2 separate regions of the Homo sapiens genome follow, and region 1 is linked to region 2. Evidence: fine-mapped expression QTL. A gene starts in region 2. The other region holds a variant in brackets. All regions are shown on one strand. Distances are from middle to middle.

Region 1 (2,924 bases), 70 kb before region 2:
TTTCCATGTCTTAGGCAGCATTATGGCCTTGGTGTTTTCAGAGGGACTAAATGTAATCAGCATAAAACTATTTTGCAGGTTCTGAAGTAGTCACACCAATGTAAAAAATCAACATTTACTTTTTTTTTGAGACAGTCTCACTCTGTTGCCCGGGCTGGAGTGCAGTGGCACGATATCGCCTCACTGCAATCTCTGCTTCACAGGCTCAAGTAATTCTCGTGCCTCAGCCTCCCAAGTAGCTGGGATTACAGGCACCTGCCAACACACCTAGCTAATTTTTTTATTTTTAGTAGCAATGGAGTTTCACCAGGTTGGCCAGGCTGTTCTCAAACTCCCGACCTCAGGTGATCTGCCCACCTCGGCCTCTCAGAGTGCTGGAATTACAGGCATGAGCCACCACATCTGGCCAACATTCACTCTTAAGCCTTTCTAAATTATTCCAATATTACAAGGACAAATGCTAATCTGATGAGTTTCAATCTACGTTGAATGAATGCTAAAGTTGAATGAAATGCTAAACTGATGAGTTTCAATCTATGTTGACTGTTTCATCACAGTAACATAAATGAAGTTTTTATTTTTCATAAATGAAATGTAATGATGTTAACAGTGGATTGGAAAATCTTCTGGAAGTTTTTGGGTTTTTTTTTCAAGACAGAGTCTGGAGAGCAGTTGTAGCGCCCAGGCTGGAGAGCAGTGGCACCACCTCAGCTCATTGCAACCTCTGCTTTCCAGGTTCAAGTGATCCTCTCACCTCAGCCTGAGTAGCTGGGACTACGGGTGCGTGCCACCACGTCTGGCTAATTTTTTGTAGAGATAAGGTCTCATCATGTTGCCCAGGCTGGTCTCGAACTCCTGGGTTCAAGTGATCCACCCGCCCTGGCCTCCCAAAATGTTGGGATTATAGGTGTGAGCCACCATGCCATGTTTTTAATGCATTTTAAAATTATGTTAAAAGAAAATTCTTACAAAGATATTTTAAGATTACATCACAGCAAGCAACTGTTTAATTGGGACAAAGAAGATACACTAAAAGCCAAATGAATTACTGTAATTAAATTTGTACAGTTTATTGACTTTTTTTTCCTTTTTATTTATTTGAGATGGAGTTTTGCTCTTGTCACCCAGGCTGGAGGGCAATGGAGCGATCTTGGCTCACTGCAACCTCCCCCTCCCAGGTTCAAGTGATTCTCCTGCCTTAGCCTCCCGAGTAGCTGGGATTACAGGCACCCACTACCACGCCTGACTAATTTTTGTGTTTTTAGTGGAGACAGGATTTCACCATGTTGGCCAGGCTGGTCTCGAACTCCTGACCTCAGGTGATCCACCCGCCTTGGCCTCCTAAAGTGCTGGGATTACAGGCGTGAGCCACTATGCCTGGCTATTGACATTTTTTTTTTTAAGCAAAGAGGTGGGG[C/T]ACATCCACTGCAGTCCAGGCATTCTGGCACCACCTCTGTTATTAACTGGAATCAAATTTTAAAAATTTCTGTGATCTTGAAGGTCTTGTTGAAGTTTTAGAGGTCTTTTGTTTTTCTTTTAGCCACTAGATTTTTCAGGAAAAATTCACCTATTTAGGAAAAAGGAAAACACATTAATATCAATTTAAAGTAAATAACAGTGAGACAACTATTTCAGAATTATATTTTTGGTGTTCCCCCTTTAAAGAAGACTTTTGTATTTATTGGCACTTCTCTCTTCTCAAACCTCAATGGCAATATTTTTCTAACCTAAATATCCCCTATTATCTTTGGCCTTTCTCCCCAGCAATAATGACTAGAGTCTCCTACTATTATTCTTTCTAGTAAGCCAATATTACAAAGGGTGACCCTACTGTATATATGGGTCTGCACATTAATTCTACTTTATGTGCACTATCTATCCCTCATCACTGTCAAAGTATTGCTCTTGGCAAAATTCATTTCCAAGAGCAATTTTGCTACATTATTAGGCTGGATCTGATGTTTATAAAACAGATCTCGTTGCAGCTGAGCAGACGCATCTGATGGAATCTCTTTAGCTTATTCCCCTCTAGGGAAGCAAGAGCTCTTCATTTGTAATGGGCTTTCTCCCCACCGCCTGAGTTGTGCCTACGCAATAAGTTAGCAGCTTAGAGGGCACATTCTCTTTTTAGGCCATTAGTGTTCCATTTAGTCTATTGCTCTTACAGCATGACTCAATGCTTATTGGTAGAGTGCAGCACTAGAGGCCTGATTTTATGAGGAGTCTGATTAACTTCTCTTTGTCATCTTACATATGAGTAGAACTGTGATGAGTCTATCTACATATAATCTCTGCAAATCCCAAGGCTCATAACCCAGCCAAGTAATCCATGCTGCTCCATACCTCCTCCAAATGTCGTGGGAGTAGCACCAACTTTATCAGACCCTAATCCATCATTTTAGTCTAATGCTCATCATATACCAGAATCTGATCTTTTCCTGGTAATTTAGAAAGCATCAGAAAGTTCATAATTTACTTCCTTTTATGTTAGAAATTTTTCTTTAGCAAAAGAAAAACTCCTTTCAAAGGACATTACTCTAACCATTCTAGAAGCTGATAGTGGTTCTATCCTTCACATGTATTTTTAGCTTGCCAGCAGTGCTGCTTGAAGACTAAATCACTTACAATTACTGGTTTTCAAAGTCCCCACATTCTGTCACTCAGTGCTGAATCAAATTCTTGGGTTTTCAAACTATGATGAGCTACTAGTTCATTAAAATGTTTTAAATTACTATTTTTATTTATTTATTTTTGAGACGGGGTCTCATTCTGTCACCCAGGCTGGAGTGCAGTGGCACGATCACAGCTCACTGCAGCCTCAACCTCCTGGGCTCAGGTGATCCTCCCACCTCAACCTCCTGGGTAGCTAGAACTAGAGGTGCCCACCACCACCCAGCAACTCAGCCACCCAGCTAATTTTTGTA
Region 2 (2,924 bases):
ATCTTCTCTTTTTTGCTATGTAACACAAATAAAATCAAAAGTGAAGTATATTTAAATTTCTGTATTTAATATGCATGAGTTAGCTAACATTTATTTGGCTTACTTATTTACTTACTTTATTTACTTATTAGCTAAGTTAGCTATACTTAACAACAAATACATATTTGAAATGGTTGTGCCTTAAGATAATTCTGAAATGATTGCATGTTGTCAGAAAAGGGTTCCAACAATTAAATTTATGAAGCACTGTTTTCCCACAGAATGAAAGTAAGCTCATATATTCACACTGTAGTGTATAATGGTAGATTTAAAAATAGCCTCAAAGTGCAACTTTTGAAAAAACTAATTGGATTAATACATTAAAAATACCTTAGATAAATAAAACATACACTAACTTAAATGCAAAATTTGAGGATAGATCTTTTGAATTAGCTTAAAATCAGTTGCCTTGATTTCAGTGAAGAGAATTACTGAGGCAGAAGGTAAATTCTTAAATTCTTAGTGTTTTCTGAAGCTATAAGAAGAAGCTAGCTGTACAGTACCTTGATCAAGTTGTGTCCCACAGTGTAGACAGCTGCTAAATTTCCCTTCTCTCCAGGGGCATGCATACCTGTCCCATACCCATGCCAAGCCACTAGATATGGGTTGTGAATTGTAATCCAATATTTGACACGGTCCCCAAACATCTGGAAACAGTATGTGGCATAGTCATTGAAGATATCTATTATGGTATCATTTTTCCACCCCCCATATTTTTCTTGTAGTGCCAAAGGCAAATCCCAGTGGTATAAAGTAACTATAGGTTCAATGTTTCTAAGCACTAGAGCGTCCAGAAGAGTACTGTAGTACTGCAGACCTTTTGCGTTGGCAACTGTTACTATTCCATCGGGGAAAAGCCTTGGCCAGGAAATTGAAAATTGATAAAAAGAAACTCCTATAAAATCCAGGGCTGATAAGTCTTTTTCCAGAAAAATATAACTGTCACTGGAACCATTCGTGCTGCTGACATTTTTAAGGTGTGTGTGGATGAAATGATCCCATATAGAAGGTCCTTTTCCATCCTTCTTCCAACTCCCTTCCACTTGCAATGCTCCAGTCCCAATACCCCAGAAAAAGTTTTTAGGGAAAGTGTCATAGAGAAACAGCTGACTTTCATTTACCGGAGTAAAATTAGGATTTTTAGACCATATAGCTCTTCCATCTCCAGAGAATCCAGTAACAGCTCGTAGCAGAATAAGTGCTGACAGGATGACAGATCTTTGCAATCCCCCGTTGGACATTGTATTCCTATAGCGTGTGGTTATTTCATCAGTGCTGAAGAAAATCCATTCATTCCCTGGAGATCCTGCCGCACAGCCTGGCTTCATTTGCCACCAACTGCTGGACTGTCTTATCAAAGCTTCAGTAAAAGCTTGTGATTGTAAAGCTCTGTCAATGATTAGCTTGAACTGGGAGACTGAGGATGGGTCATAGAGAGCAACGTAATTTGAGGGAGGTGGCCCTATTGCAGTCACCAACGCGTCTCCTTCTCTCTCATTATGGAAAAAATTAGATGAAAATGCATCGGTGACAAGAGTTTGAATGTGTAACTAACACATATGTAAACACTGGATTAAAATCACATTATTTTCCGTGTAGCCTTTCATATTGACCCAAATCTTTTCTGAATGTTTTGAACATTATTGAATAAGGTATATAGCTTTTCTATTTTTAGAGTTTTTGTGTGGTAATTTTATAATCTCATATATCAAGAAAAATAACATATACAAGTATATAGCATTCCTACATACCAATAGTAAAGAATTAGAAAACACAATAAGAAATTACACTTCTCCACAAAATTATAACGCATCTAAGAACAATCTTAATAAATGTTACCTATTTTAGGAAAATTGCAAAAATGTATTGGTAGATTTGAGAGAAGACTTGAATGAGAAAATATAGCACTTTGTGGATGGAAAAATGAAATACTTTTCAATTTAATACATTTAACTTAACTAAAATCCTCTAATCTCTAATTTTATTTTTTATTTTATTTATTTAACTTAACTAAAATTCTCTAATCTCTAATTTTTTAATTAATTAATTAATTTTTAATAAGAGTCTTGCTTTGTAGCCTAGGCTGGAGTGCAGTGGTGTCATCACAGCTCACCGCAGCCTCAACTTCCCAGGCTTAAGCAATCCTCCCTCCTCAGCCTCCAAGTAGCTGGGACAACAGGCACATGCCACCATGCCCAGCTGATTTTTGATTTTTTGGTAGAGGTGGGGTCTAGCTATGTCCCCCAGGCTGGTCCTGAACTCCTGGGCTCAAACAGCCCTTCTGCCTCGGCCTCCTAAAGTGCTTGGGATTATAGGTGTGAGCCACCATGCCTGGCCTAATCCCAAATTTTAGTTCAAGAAAATTATTACGAAAGGCCAGGCACAGTGATTCATGGCTATAATCCCACCACTTTGGGAGGCCAAGGCAGGCAGATCACTTGGGGTCAGGAGTTTGAGACCAGCCTAGCCAACATGTTGAAACCCCGTCTCTATTAAAAATACAATTAGCTGGGCACGGTGGTGGGCACCTGTAATCCCAGCTACCTGGGAGGCTGAGGCAGGAGAATCTCTTGAACCTGGGACGTGGAGGTTGTAGTGAGCTGAGATCGCACCACCGCACTCCAGCCTGGGCAACAGAGCAAGACTCGGTCTCAAAATAAAAAAAAAAAAAAAAAGAGAAAATTATTATGAAAGTTCCCTTGAAGAATAGGCAATATTTATTTTTAAAAAGGAAAGAAAAACCTGAAAAAGAAAATAGCAAAGGCATAGACTACCTTCAGCATGATTCTGGAATAAAGATAAACATACAGAAAGAAATACATGCACATACAGAAAGAAATATTGTACCAAATCGATAGCCTCCAAATAACCTGTAAAAAATTTAA

The links. PIP is the estimated chance that this variant, and not a neighbour inherited with it, causes the effect.
Region 1: its variant is fine-mapped to the expression of KLB in testis (GTEx, PIP above 0.99).

The regions. Positions count from the first base shown.
Region 1 is chr4:39,475,706-39,478,629 of GRCh38, reverse strand. LIAS (lipoic acid synthetase) reads right to left here. Exons shown (of 11, transcript NM_006859.4): 11 at 1-1,567. The coding sequence ends at 1,515. Among named protein-coding and RNA genes, the nearest start is that of LIAS, 18 kb to the right of the region's middle. The variant C/T (reference allele first, on the strand shown) is at 1,418.
Region 2 is chr4:39,405,393-39,408,316 of GRCh38, reverse strand. It overlaps KLB (klotho beta), which reads right to left and starts at 1,387. Exons shown (of 5, transcript NM_175737.4): 1 at 543-1,387. The coding sequence starts at 1,367.